Homo sapiens: one gene and its partner. The protein of the gene in region 1 interacts with the protein of each later gene in a biochemical or structural test. Each region holds a gene or a part of one and is shown on either strand. Other genes may lie near its edges.

The links.
Region 2: the proteins of PHLDA1 (region 1) and PABPC4 form a complex in vitro, tested with the Homo sapiens proteins (one study listed by BioGRID).

The regions. Positions count from the first base shown.
Region 1 is NC_000012.12:76,028,769-76,036,435, forward strand, and holds the start of PHLDA1 (pleckstrin homology-like domain family A member 1), read right to left. Parts: upstream 3,009-7,667; 5' UTR 2,974-3,008; coding exon 1,768-2,973; 3' UTR 1,742-1,767; exon of another isoform or gene 1,726-1,741; intron 1,325-1,725; 3' UTR 1-1,324. UniProt on the Homo sapiens protein: Seems to be involved in regulation of apoptosis. May be involved in detachment-mediated programmed cell death. May mediate apoptosis during neuronal development. May be involved in regulation of anti-apoptotic effects of IGF1.
Region 2 is NC_000001.11:39,566,782-39,573,805, forward strand, and holds part of PABPC4 (polyadenylate-binding protein 4), read right to left. Parts: intron 6,423-7,024; exon of another isoform or gene 6,300-6,422; intron 5,898-6,299; exon of another isoform or gene 5,806-5,897; coding exon 5,612-5,805; intron 4,569-5,611; coding exon 4,453-4,568; intron 3,843-4,452; exon of another isoform or gene 3,699-3,842; intron 3,222-3,698; coding exon 3,082-3,221; intron 2,909-3,081; coding exon 2,814-2,908; intron 2,159-2,813; coding exon 2,021-2,158; intron 1,066-2,020; coding exon 970-1,065; intron 730-969; exon of another isoform or gene 593-729; intron 1-592.

The DNA.
Region 1 (7,667 bases):
GATTTAACACAGAAGAAGGTTTGTTCTACCTTTAAAAGCATATCCTCTTTTTTCCCCCAACAGACTCCTCAACAAGTGGCTTCTAAGACAAGACTGGGGTTGTTTTCTTACTGAAAATCCTGTGTTTATCCAGTCTTTTCCTTTTCAATTTCTGAGTTTAGCTTACCTAACAGCAAAACAGAATCCTCAAATTTCTCACAGAGCAATGAAAAGCAAAACAGTTGGTTTCTCTGATCAACATCATTTTCAGTATGAAAACAAAAGTTATGACTCCTAGACCTTTGAAATATTTACAAATTGTACTTTAAACAACGAGATTTTTCAGTGTGCTTCTAAAACAAAGTAAAGGGATCAGAAAATGTGGTTCAAGTCAAGTGTGCAAAGCTCTCGAAGAAAGGTCCTGCAGCCTGGACAGGAGTACAAATATTCTCTTATACAAGTTAAATGTACTCTTTTCCTCCACAACATTTTTGAAATGAAACAGCAAATGCATTTATACTCACAAATCAGTCAAAAGGCCTCTTCTCCTTATTAAGCCCTTTACACACAGATGATAAAAGCAAGGTTTTCCTACAATAGATGTGGCCCTACCACATATTCAAGATACAATCATCCTACCATCAGTTAGGTTATGCTTTAAATATTTTGAAATCAGGTATCCTTAACTACTGATTTCCTTTTAGAAACTATCTTGAGTGTTAGATTTTCATAATTACACCATTTTTAACTTTTAGCTTTTTAAACTTCTAGACAAACTATATGTTTAAGCAAAAACAAAAATAAAAATCCTCAAAAAAAGTAATATCAGAGTTTTAATTTCAACCAGCTGGCACAACAATGAAAGTGTCAGACTTTCTGAAAGTACTCGAGAAATAATGAATAAATTCTTAATGTTTTCCCCTCCACCGCCCTTTTTTATTCTCCAAGATTAGGAATTACTACGGATTAGGTTTTTGAAAATAAAGTTTCCTTTTTGGAAAATGGTCTACATTCAGAAATGTCTTAGAACAAGCATTTAAAAAAAAACTAATAAATAATCATAAATCAAAATACATTAAAATAAAATTACAGTACATCATCGCTCCTAGAAAATTCACCATACAAGACGATCCTTTCAAAGGTTCATAAATAAAAGTCTTCTTGACTCGAAATCGTTTCCTGCATCGTGATGAAAAGTATGCAGAAAACTAAGAAGAATCGCAAGTTTTCAGTAGGGTGATGTCCAAACTACTTGATCTGGTGCGGGGCGGAGAGACTGTTTTGCTTTTGATCCAAGTGAAGACAATAGAAATGTGCTCGTCCCACTTCCTCAAGTCCTCAAAACCTGGAAAGAAATGACACCGAGTGAAGTAGGTGGCTAAGAACCCTCCGAGACCAGTTCTGTTCGGGCCAGTCCGCCTGACAAAGCGGGCTCAGAAAGACACCGTGGTGTTTCCCTCAACTGCCCAAACATATAGTCAAGTGGGGCTGGGGGACGCACCACGGGACAAGGACGGTCGTGATGGGCGCGGGCGCGGGCGCGGTCCGCGAGGCCCCCTGCCTGGCCCGGATCTCCCCAGCCTCCCCTCTCTGCCCAGCTCTCCTGGCCCCAGCTTGTTTCTGTTTCTTCCATTGCCCCAGAAACTTGGTATGAGTTTTGATTTCTCCATACAGGAGCCGAACCTGTGAACAAGCTTCCTACTCCTCCCAACTCACTACCCCCGAGACCCACTCCTCGGGAGCGCGAGTGCCGGGACCTTACCTTGTCTTGCCCGGGAGCTGCCCCTTTCAGGCAGAGTTGGAGGTGCTGCGGAGAAGCCGGTGCCCGTGCGGCTGCGAGTGCGGCTGTGGGTGTGGGTGCGGTATTTGGTGCGGATGCGGGTGCGGGTGAGGGTGTGGGTGCGAGTGAGGATGAGAGTGTGGATGTGGATGTGGATGCGGATACGGGTGGAGCTGCTGGGGCTGAGGCTTGGGTTGGGGCTGAGGCTGGGGTTGTGATTGGGGCTGGGGTTGCGGCTGAGGCTGAGGCTGGGGTTGGGGCTGGAGCTGCGGCTGCGGCTGCGGCTGCGAGGGGGGCTGCTGCTGGACCAGGTGCTGCTGCTTCTGCCGCGTGGATTTGACCGCCAGGATGGCCTGACGATTCTTGTACTGCACCATCTGCAGCGTGATCTCGGCGTTCCAGCCCTGGTCTTGCGGGCACCGAAAGTCGATCTCCTTGCCCTCTGCCATCACCACAGTGAAGTACATGTACTTGCCCTTGCGCTCCACACAGTCCACGGTCTTCATGTTGGAGAAGTGCAGTTCCTTGAGCTTGACCGGCGGCTCGAGGCTGGCGACAGCGGGGCCACTGGGTTGGGACGGCTCGGCCGGCCCCTGCCCGGGCTGTTGTTGCTGCTGCTGCTGCTGCTGTTGCTGCTGCTGCTGCTGGTGTTGCAGCTGCTTGGGCGGGATAAGCAGCAGCCCTTCCTCGGTGAGGATGCAACACTTTTTCTTCCAGAGCTGCAACAACCCGTCGCTGCGCTTCTCCAGCACGCCCTCCTTCAGCGCTTTGCAGCCGCTACTCTCCAGCATCCTCCCAGCATAAGAGGGGCCGCCGCTTGGCTCGGCCTCTCCGTTTCCAGCCGCGCGGGCCGGGGGCAGCAGCAGCAGCCTCGCGCCGTCCTCGCCCCAGCGGCTCCCACGGCCGCCTGCCCGGAGCGCGCAGAGGAGGCTAACACGCAGGAGGCAGAGCGGCGGCGGCGGCTCTGGGTCCCGGCAGAGGGACAGCCGCGTCCTGATGCGCCACAAGGTCCCGGAGCTCCGAGCTGCCGGGCCTCTGCCGTCCTCTTGCGAGCGCTCACTGAAGGGCACTGGCCGGGCCCCCTCGCGGCGCTTTTGAATGGGCCATCTTCCCCACCCCCGAGTGACACCCAGCGGAAAAGGCGGCTCCTGGCGCCCGCACCGCGGGGGAAAGCCCAGCTCCAAGAGGCGCTCGGCAGCCGGCGCACGCCTCATTAACTTGGGGCCTTTCCAAAGCCCGCTGCGTCCACGCCCTCCAGCGTCTCTTGCTCCGCCTCTCGCCGCCCACTTGCTTCCGCGCTCGTTCCCCTGGAAGGCGACCCGGACCCGAGCCCCGGAAACTCCTCTCCTCTACCCAGGGCGATCGCCCAAGGAGCCCTGGCTGCCTGACTACTGCCGACGCTCACAGGGCGCTGCGAGGCCATCCCCCGCGTCCCGCTTCTCCCCGGCCCGCGGGACTCTCTGCTAACAGCCTCAGAAAGTGAGGACGGGGGCGCGGAGGCGGGGGCAGCCTCCAGGCAGTGCTGCCTCTCGGTTCTTGGGAATTAGCCCGGGGGATTCGCGCTGGGCTCCGAGAGCCCGCAGAACCAGCGTCGTGTCCTGGGCGAGCTGGGAGGCCGGGGCCGAGTCCCGCGAGTCCCGCGAGTGTGCCTCCCCCGGACGCCTAGGTAAACAACTGAGCGCACAGAGGCCGAGAGGACATCGTGTCTTCCCACGCATATTCGCTCACGGTCACTAAGTAGCTCTTCTTGGAAAGAGGGCGATTGTTAAAGCAATAGTGCGACTGTCGGGCTTGCCACGGGTGGAGAGAGGCGGACCCACGTCAGGTCGCATCTCGCCTGCTTTTCTCGACCCCGACCGCAGGCGCTAACCCGTCTTCGGCTTTCTTCTTGACCCGTACGGTTTGCAACGTCTCTTAAAACAGTAACTCAACTCTCTACAAACCGGGGTAATATCCGGTGCTGAGATCCCACACTGCAAGGCGCAGTTCCAAACGTCTGGTCGGCCTCGCAGGTCCCTCTTTCCAAGGCCTAGCCAGATCTTGGTTTTGGAATCTCATTTATCTGTGACCTGGGGAATGCAATACCCCCAGCTCCCTCCTACTCCTACATTTAAACAATGCCTATAGAAGCCGCTTCCTGGGAAGTAAGGCATAACCGAGACCTAGCCTCCCGGTAGGGAAGTTCATCCGTTTAGTAAACAGCCCCAACTACGTGCGGACCCTCACGGGGATACGAAGAATTCAACCAGGGCTGGACAAGTCAGAGTGGGCCAAGGTAAGAGTTACGGCTGCTACTGTGCCCACGTTGGAACAGATAGATTAGTTCATCTGCTAGTTGTGTGGCAAGAGCAAAGAATTCAAGAGGGGAAGAGAAAGTGAGAGGAGCTTAGAGAGCTAAGCAAGAATCGAATCCTTTGTGTGTCATGGTAAGAAATTCGAACTTAATACCAAGGTAGTCAGAACAAAGGACAACTTTTATACACGAGGGCGTCCTGAATATTCATCTAAGAAACAATGTCTGATCAAACGGGACAATCCAGCCAGCAATCCTGAGTCCCACCGGATTATGCTTGGCCAGCTTTCTAGCCTTCACATTGTTAATTTATTAGCAATCTTTTCAGGAGAAAGGCAATTATTAAAATTATGTGGACTTCTAGTAAAATTATCTCGAAGATTTACAATTATGTATACCAATAACAAAAAAACTACATGTTTTCTGCTCCCCTGCCTTTGTAGGACAAGTGAGCATTCCAGAGAATTTCTACATGACCAGCTGTTCATTCTTTTAAGAGGATGACATTCTTCAGCTCATCTGGAAAGGATACTTCCTTTAAGTCTGTTATTCACAGTCTCCAAGGGCAGGTGTAGTTGGGAAAGACATTTCATATGGAAAAACAAACTTGATAGGGTAAAAAAAAAAAAAATGAGATGTAATCTGGAGGCCCAAGTCATTTTCTTAGGAGAAACTCAAATGTGTTTGGTGTTATCTAACCTTCTGCAGTTTATCAGTCTGAAACAAATGCATTCTATTCTCATTTGAAAATGTCTGAACAGCCACCAATTTTCAAAATCACCCATTTAACTAGAGACTTTAAAGCCCAGAATTTGCAGTTACGTATTTCAGAATGATTTAGTAATTTTGTGAGCAGCTCAGAGGTTAAGTCTACAATGTCTGACTACGGTGCATTATTGAAAATATCAGTAGTGTAAGGATCCCGTAGATTGGTGATAACTTTGCTCTTGTTATTTCAACAGTTACCACCAACAGTTGGTGACTTAACAAATTAAGAGCATAGTTGCCATATGCTCATATTTGGCAAATATGTCAAAATGGCCATATTTGCCAATTTTTAAGACAATAAATTCACAGAAAATGCATTACAGAAAATAACTTAAAAAAAAAAAAAACAACTTTTGGGCCAGGCATGGTGGTTCACACCTGTAATACCAACACTCTAGGAGGCTGAGGTGAGAGGATCCCTTGAGCCCAGGAGTTTGAAACCAACCTGGGCTACATGGCAAGGCCTCCCTCTACAAATGTAAAAAAAAAATTAGCCAGGTGTGGTGGCATGCGCCATGTAGCCCCAGCTACTTGGGAGGCTGAGGTGGAGGACTGTTTGAGCCCAGAAGTTCAAGGTTGCAGGAGCTAGGATCGCACCACTATACAAGCCTGGGTGGCAGCAAGACCCTGTTTAAAAAAAAAAAAAAATTCAGCTGTATATGCAATGAAAACCTACAAGTCACTGAAAAGTTACTGAAGTTTAGAAAACTAGCCAACAAAATCATTGCTTTGGTAAACAAATTTGAAATGGCTAATTGAAAGTACATTTTACAGCTGGCAATATAAAGTTATCTATCAGCAGCACTGGACAGTTCATTTTCTTCTCTTGGATAAAGTTTATCACTTGGCTTCAAGGACATCACTCAGTTTTCCTTTACATCTCCAGTGTCTCCTCTATGAGGTGCTTTCTCTTCTCTCCAAACTTTTAATGTTGGAATGCCCCAAGTCTTTGTCTTTGGCTCTCTTCTTTATCTACACTCATTCCCTTGTTGATATCCAGTCTCATCACTTTTAATAACATCTATATGCCAGAGTCCCAAATTTATACCCCCAACTTATATCCAACTGCTTACTGCCGAAGAATAAAACACTGAAGTTAAAAAATAATAAACATACCAGGCAAGGGAACACTTACTAGTAAAGCCATTTACTGAGTAGTTCACTAAAGGTTTAAGTCTGAGGGGATTTTAGGTCATAGGAAAAAAAAAAAAAAACTGAAAAAGAACACTCGGATGGTCAGAGGAGTCTGTAATTCATACACAATAGGTTTTAACAAATTCCTACATGGAACTGCTCCAGTTTATAGGTTAGAATTAACTATAGTGAAAAACAGCCTTCAGTTTTTATCAATTCCAGGCCAGTGAGTGCTACTATAAGTTGAAAATTCTCCATTTACACTTCTCTACAGTACGGCTTGTGTAGTCTAAGAAATCAAACATGTGAATGAGCTCCCAAACTATTTTCCTCACTCTAACCTACTCTACCTGCAGCCCCCTTTCTCAGTTGACAGCAATCCTCTGTACAGATGCTCAAACTAAAAACCGTAGATCAGTACTGCCCTTACACCAGGCCAGGAAAGGCCCTTATCCAAGGCCCTGAGCTTTAGGATTGAGTGCTTTAGAGTCAAGATGACATGTCAATCTAGAGAGCATACTCATTCTGCACTACACTCTAGGTACTCAAGACCCCAAATACCCTGCCCAGAATAGCCCCAGCTGTTCCAGGAAATGCATTACATCATCATTGCATGCACTGATGTGTTAGGGGGATAGGGCAGTTCGAATATACTGGTTATGGCATCCAAGTAAATGTGCAGGAGGCCCCTTGCCATACAGTTCAGAGCCGGGGTGGGAAGAAAAGGAAGGTGGCTCATGGGCTGAGGGTCAGCTCTGCCCGCAAGTTATATTCTGGCATAAATACAAACCTGGCTTCCCAGTTCTAATGAAAGTTTGTCAAGACAGGCACATTGGGCATATTTTCATTAAACAGTACTTTTAAATATTTAAACATACGGTATCTCCATTGTACTCTTGCCCCAGGCCTTCAAGTGTGTAGAATCATGCCTGCCTTGTAGTAATTTTTTTCTCTCCCAATATTTAATCTACACATTTAGTCAGGAAATCCTACTGGTTAGGCCTTCAACTACATCTGGATTCTGTCCACTTCCTTCATTACCACCCTGATCCAAATCACCATCATATCCCCCCACTGGATTACTATGATGGCCTCCTAACTTGTCTCCCTGATTCTATCCTTGTTATCTATTTTCAGCATAGCACCCAAAGTTATCTCCATCACTTTCTTCAAGTCTTGGCTCAACAGGCCTATCCTGATCACTCTCAAATGGTAGCCACTCAATTCCCCTTAATTTTTCCCATAGCATATATTATCTTCTAACATGCTACTCAATAATTTATTGTACCTATTGCTTATTTCTGTTCCCCTTCCCACTAGAATAGTATGCAAGCTATTCAAGAGGGCAAGGACCATTGTTTCTGATGTGTCCCAATCACCTAGAAAAAGTCTTGATACCAAGTAGATGCTCAACATAGGTAGAAATCTTGAATTGAATTAGAAGTCCATACCCATCATAAAAAGAATATCAATTTTTTCAAATGCTTTTGACAGATTTTTCATGATGCATCCTACTTTTTAAAACTTGAGATGTAAGGACTTGAAATTTGCCCTACAAACATATCTCTGGTATACTTTTTAAATGGATAACTACATGCTAGGCCTCTCTGAATCTTAAATGCTTTTATAGTCAGACATCTAAAATAAATCCCACAAACCTTTTCCCAAGCAACATGCAATTTAATATCATGAGAGGTGTTTATATAAACTAGT
Region 2 (7,024 bases), on another chromosome or scaffold:
AAGGATAGAAGATCACTCCTTACACTGATGAGGGCCAGTCAAGGGGGGGGTCATAGCAAAAACGAAAGGGTAAGAACTGGGCAAACCCACAGTTGGCCTCTGGCCAACTCCCTACTACAACTGATAACATTGCTTTCCACATTCCCAGGTTGGGAGCAAAGTCCACTAAGAGCCAGGGCAGGGCCACTAAGCCCTTACCAGCCCACGTGGCTTCCCTTCTCATCAACTAAAGGATTTTGTGGCATCTGGTACACCTGTTTAGCAAGACCGGCGTCTGCATCCGGCCATAACTCAAAATGTTCAGATGGCACCAGTTTCCATCCTGCTCCCAAAGTGCCAAGGACAAGCAGTACACCATCCCCATGTAGTCAGCATTCTCTTGTTCAAGGACTAAAATTCCTTATCTTTAAAATGAGGTTCCTACTTACCCTGCTAACTTAGTTGATATGATTATCAAAGAAAATCAAGCAAATGATGCACACTACGAAACATAGAAAAACCTTCCACTCCCCTTTCCTCTCTTTTTAAGACCAGGGTAGAAGTTCCCAAGCCCACCTCCAAAATCTTCAAAATACCTTCATTCTCAAGGAGAAAATGTGGCAGAGCTGTAGAGACAGGCCCCAAGACAAATGGAAAACAACCTGTCTGGATTTCCTCTGCTCATTCTGTAGCACCATCTGTCCCCACACCGGCACGAGGCAGCAAGGAATGGGAAAGATTCAGGTGCTCTGAGTTGGCAAGGAGGGGCTGGGTCAAATTCCTCTCCAGACTCCAGTGCTTGGGAAACAGTGTAATGTTAACCTAATGAAATGTCATTCTCCAGAATGCATCCAGAAATTTTGCTAGAAAAACGTAGTAGCTACTTTCAGAAATGAACATAATTTAAATGCTATTCCTTCAATGGGACAAATGCCAATAAGCCTATAATGGAATACCACTGCTTTCAATCCCCAGATCGCAGTATAATACCTTAGCACTGGTAATTGATCCAAAAGGAGAAAATTCTTTCCTTAATTTCTCATCATCAATAGTGTCATCCAAGTTCTTAATGTAGAGATTCACCCCCTGAAGGAAAAAGATCACTGTTAACTACACTTCTATATCACAAATATTCCCTAAGAAAGTGGTTCCCCAAGGGTGGCCCCAGACCAGGAGCACCAGCATCTTTGGGAACTTGTTAGAAATGAAATTCTCGGCCGGACGCGGTGGCTCACGCCTGTAATCCCAGCACTTTGGGAGGCCGAGGCGGGCGAATCACAAGGTCAGGAGATCGAGACCATCCTGGCTAACACAGTGAAACCCCGTCTCTACTAAAAATACAAAAAATTAGCCAGGCATGGTGGCGGGTGCCTGTAGTCCCAGCTACTCAGGAGGCTAAGGCAGGAGAATGGTGCGAACCCGGGAGGCGGAGTTTGCAGTGAGCCGAGATTGTGCCACTGCACTCCAACCTGGGCGACAGAGCGAGACTGTCTCAAGAAAAAAAAAAAAAAAAGAAAGAAATGAAATTCTTAGGCCAGACCCCAAACCCAATGAATAAGAAAAACTCTGGGGCTGGAGCCCAGCTATCTGTTTTAACAAGCTCTGCTGATGAATCTGATGCAAGTCCAAAGTTGTGAAACTACTGCCCTGAAACTGACAGGATCATCAGTGCACTCACCTTTTGTCACCTCTCCCCACAGCTGTTCTGGTGACCACTCACCCACCCCAGCAGGGGTCTTCTTGAAGCCATGCCAAACAAAGGAGTCTCATTTAAGTAAAAGGAACCTACATGGCTAAAAGCAACAGGCTGAGGCTTCCAAAATAGAGAGCTTCTTGATGAATAAACCCATCTCTTGTTTCTGGTTCTATAATAATCAGTCATATGTAGTAGGTATATATCCTTTTAAACCTCATCTTTTTAGGTAAAATGGGAAGAAGAACACACTCCAAGTCCTCAAAAAGAAAGCCCGCTAAACATAGGGGTGTTCTGCAAATATTTCACAGCAAATCCCATTGCTAGGCTGGGCCAAGACCACCTTACCTGATATCGACTAATTCTCTCCTGTTTCAACTGTTCAAATTTCCGTTTTAACTCTGCCTGCCGTTCTACTTTCTTTTGTGCACGGCCTACAAATATGATTTTACCACTTATTTCTTTTCCATTCATCTCTTCCACAGCCTAGAGAGGAAAAATATGTCTTTAAAATAAAGTTGCAGCGATGGGGTCTTATTCTGGAGGTCTAAGTCCCAAAAAATATTCTTTCTACTATAGGACTAAAAACTAAATTCACTCCACCTCTGAAGTCTGTCACACAAATCCAAACTTCCTCATCTGTAAAGTGAGGTTAATATTTAAATGGGTTATTGATCCAGATAATATAGAAATAGTACAGGTGTATAAACACAAGTGTGCTGACATGAGCCTAGGGCGATATAATATTCCGGCTGCCAGTAAATTCTGCAGGTGCTTTTGTGGGTATTTAAGTGATAAATATTGAGGGTCTGGCACAATGCTTTGCCCACAAGTAGCTGCCGTGCTGTTATCAAATCAGCACTCACTGGGCTTTAGTTCTCTCACCTTTGCAGCATAACAAACGTCTGTCCTATTCTTTCAACAACTGATAGCTGAGGTGACAGGTATGTGCCAAGTGCTTTGTAAACACCTACATGAAGTTAACATGCGGAACCCAGGAAGATGATCCCAGAGTATAGTAATGGTACATCTACTACCAGATACTCAGACCGTCCCAGCTCTAGGTAGGTGCTAGCAAGACCCTACCCATACTCTGGGGCAACCTCTTAAAAGCTTTTCCCAATCTTTGTGGTATACTCACCTTATTGGCATCCTCGTGTTTTTCGTAACTCACAAAGCCAAAGCCTTTGGATTTCCCATTGGGATCTCTCATCACCTTGACACTTAGGGTCTTACCTATTACCAAAGGACAGAACTATTAGTAACACCATCTTGAGCACAGCTCAGGAACAGAAGGCTTCCCTCTGGAAACTCACTTGAAGCAAATCTCTGGAGCAGTGCCCTCATCTCTTAAGAAAAAACAGATGGGTCTGGTAGACTGTGAAAGGAGACAAGGAACCCCAACTTACCAAACTGACTGAATAGCTCTTTCAGACTCTCATCATCCACCTCTTCCCCAAAGTTTTTGATATAAACATTGGTGAATTCCTTGGCTTTGGCTCCAAGCTCAGCTTCCCGCTCTTTGCGAGACTTGAATCTGCCCACAAATCTAAAATGAAACCATGAAGAACAGTAATTACCCAGAGGAATAAAACATGATGTCCAGGGACCCAAAGGAATACAGGTTAAAGACTGACAGGAGAGGTTAAAACACGAGATCCCCATCCACCACCAAGGAGGCTCAGAGATACCCCAAGTCCCCAGCAGAAAGAGAAAAAGGCAGGACTATCCTGTGAGGACCAGCCCCAGGGCTCCTGGCTTAGACCAGGGCTATTCCTACCACATCACACTGCCTTCATGAAGAAACCTGATGGCCATGTTTTTAAAATGTTCATTTCTGTGCAACTATGTAAATGCATAGAAAAGGTCTGGAAGGATACAAACCAAACTGTTAACAGTGGTTAATCCTAGATATGAGATTGTTGGAGTGAAGGGGCACCCTTTGCTTTTTAAATTTATTTATTTTGGTCTGTTATACTTAAAAGAAAATTTATCCATGCACTGACATTTTTGTATTTCTTTTTAGTGATATCTGTAGATCAACCACTGCACACACAGACATTATAAAGATAACCCATCCTCTGGCATACTGAATGACACAAAGGACAAAAATTATTTTGGCTTGTAATAGCCAAGACTTATTGTCTCTTCTTCTCCCCATATGGCTTTGGTAAGTTCCCCCTCTCTGCATTCTACAGTAACAACCACATCAAAGCAACAAGGTCTGTTATGAAGTTTTTCTGCAAAGGGATGGGATTTTTTCATTGTCACCAAGTATTACTGTGGAGCCAGCCTTGTATTAGGTCACTGAGTCATAAGTTAGAAAATGGAGAACCGCGGGGACAATTTGGCATCAACCACTAGCGAGGGACCCATGGACAGACCTGAATCACAGGAAAGCCAAGGTCACACTGCTAGTATACAGCTCCTGGTCAGTCCAGGGCCCTCTCCACTCTGCCGCTGGCCAAGACCCCGACTCAGAGTGAGCTTAGAGCTGCTTTCCAGCCAGCCCCAGTTGTTGATGCTCACAAAACCCACAGACAGATGCCTTTAAGGGAGAGGCGGCAGGCAGGCCATGGCTTGGGCAGGAAGCCCACCTTGGCGAGTCAAAAGGGCTGCCACGGCTCAGGCAGGGAGACTCACCAGCCCTGGAGTGGAGAGGTAGGAGCAGGCCACACTTGGGCCGAGAACCAGTAGCCGCCTTGTGTGTGCCAGTTAATAGCGAGGTGGGGCCACGGCTGGCTCATGCGATGGTTGTTGCTCCGGACTGGGACACTCACACTTTGCGGTCATTGAGGAGCATGCCATTCATCTTCTCGATGGCCTTGTCGGCAGCCTCTTGGGTCTCGAAGTGGACAAAGGCATAACCCTTAGAGCCGTTCTCATCACACACCACCTGTCAAAGACAAGGCGGACCACTTTAGCAGAACTGGCCAGCTCCTGAGACATGAGAACCTCAGGGTATCTTGTGCCTGAGGAGACTCTAGCCCATCCATGGCCAATGGTGGTCAAGTACACCAGTATAATTTTTCTAACACCTAGCACAGCACCAGGTGCCTAGTAAGTGTTCCATTTACAAAGGTAGCCCTACTAAGATGCTTCTATTCCAAATGTTTTATTTTTATCAAAAACAAACAAACAAAAAATACTTAAAATTGGGTGCTGTGGCTCATGCCTGTAATCCCAATGCTTTGGGAGGCCAAAGCAGGAGGATCGTTGGAGCCAGATCGTTGGACAATGGAGACCCTGTCTCTACAAAAAAGAAAAAAATTAAATGAGTGTGGTGGCACGTGCCTGTAGTTCCAGCTACTTGGGAGGCTGAGGTGGGAGGATGGCTTGAGCCCAGGAGGTCGAAGCTACAATGAGCTATTACTAGACCACTGCACTCCACCCTGGGTGACAGACAGAGCAAGACTCTGTCTCTTTAAAACACAACAACACATTTTAAGAGATCTGGGTGCAAACCACGGTGATGCAGAAAACAAAACATTTTCCAAGGCCACAACAGATTTTCAGTGTAGTATGGCATTAAACATATACACCACCACCGTTTAAGTTTTAAAGTGCTCAGCATAGAACAGATACGTAGAAGGAATAGAGTGAATTTATGCTTCTAAAGTGATTAAGTTTCCTCAAGACTAGAGACACTTCTCTGGTCCTCTACTTTCCCCCATCCCAAAAGAAAAACGTGGGCTTTCCAAAGCTAAAGAATAGGAAGGATATTTCAGGCTGAGTAAAGAACAAGGGTATGAAAGCGTGTGCTGGTTACGCTGGGTATGGCCCTGAGATTACCTATGGGAACTTTTAGGATTCCATGTCCAGCATTTTGAAAATTCCCATATCTTGTTCCCCAATTCCAAGATAGTTCTCTGTTTGGTATTTATCTTGTTTTCAAGAATCAATTAATTATTCTGCTAAAATCATTTAATCAATGTTTACCTTGCAGGACAGTATGTTTCCAAAAGCAGAAAAAGTATCATAAAGTGCCTTGTTATCTATAGATTTGTCCAGGTTCTTGATGAAGACGTTTCCCACACCAGATTTTCTCAAAGAGGGATCCCTCTGAGACCACATGATGCGGATTGGCTTTCCCTTAATCACATCAAAGTTCATGGTGTCCAAAGCCCGCTCAGCTGTAAGAGAGAAACACATTTCAATAAGGAGAGAAAACGTCAGCTCCCACAGGCCAACAGCCTAAGAACAGATTACTCCAGGACTTTTCAAGGTAATCACTCTTGATAAAAGGCAACTCTATTAAAATAAAAGGGCATCAGATTCCTCCAGCCTGCACTGTTAGTAAGGGAAGCATAAGTTCCAGCTAATGACTCTACTTCATGACAGAAGTCTAAACACCCTTCTGGGTCTGTGCCCTTGTTGGATAAAGGGGCCACAAGTAAAGATAATCTAAATGGCCTTAATGACACCAAGATCCAGTGATAATACCTCACATTTGACTAAGCTTTACCACTTAGAAGAGACTTTGCAGACTACCACCCACCATGACTCAGGTGGGACAGCTGAAATTATACATTTTACAAAATGAACAAACTTATGTTTAGGGTAACTAAGCTGTGCAGCTAGCTAGTAATTACGAAACTAATACTAGATTATCTGATTTATTTTTCAGTGAGGTATTGCATCAAAGTTATCAAGTCATTTAGTCTGCAATCCACCTATGGAGACAAGTGACAAAACCTGTAAAGCAAATGATCTGGAAAAAAAAAAAAAGGTGCTATCCCTGAATTCAGAATTCAGTCCAGTTTATTTTCAATTTCTGAGAACAGAAATTGACTTAAACAAAAAAGCATCAGTCATCAAAATGGACACAACTGATCACACATGGAAAAGTTCTCTGTACTATCACAAGGATAAAACCACCATACCTTCTGCCTAAGTAGACAGTGCGCAGATGGCAGGCCCTGCACCCACCTTTTGAAGCCTTAATGGAAGTTCTGTAGAATTCTAGGACTTCAGCTACCCTGGGTGCTCAACCAACTTCCCCATCCAACACCTTGGAATGCTTCCTTAGCTTCCCAACCAAGTCCGTGTGTACACCAGAGACAATTTAAAGAACCAAAGGCTGGGCTGGGTATGGTGGCTCACTCCTGTAATCCCAGCACTTTGGGAGGCCAAGGCGGGTGGATTACCTGAGGTCAGGAGTTCGAGACCAGCCTGACCAACATGGTGAAAACCCCATCTCTACTAAAAATACACAATTAGCTGGGCATGGTGGCGGGTGCCTGTAATCCCAGCTACTCAGGAGACTGAGGCAGGAAAATTGTTTGGACCCAGGAGTCAGAGGTTGCAGTGAGCTGAGATCGCGCCATTGCACTCCAGCCTGGGCAGCAAGAG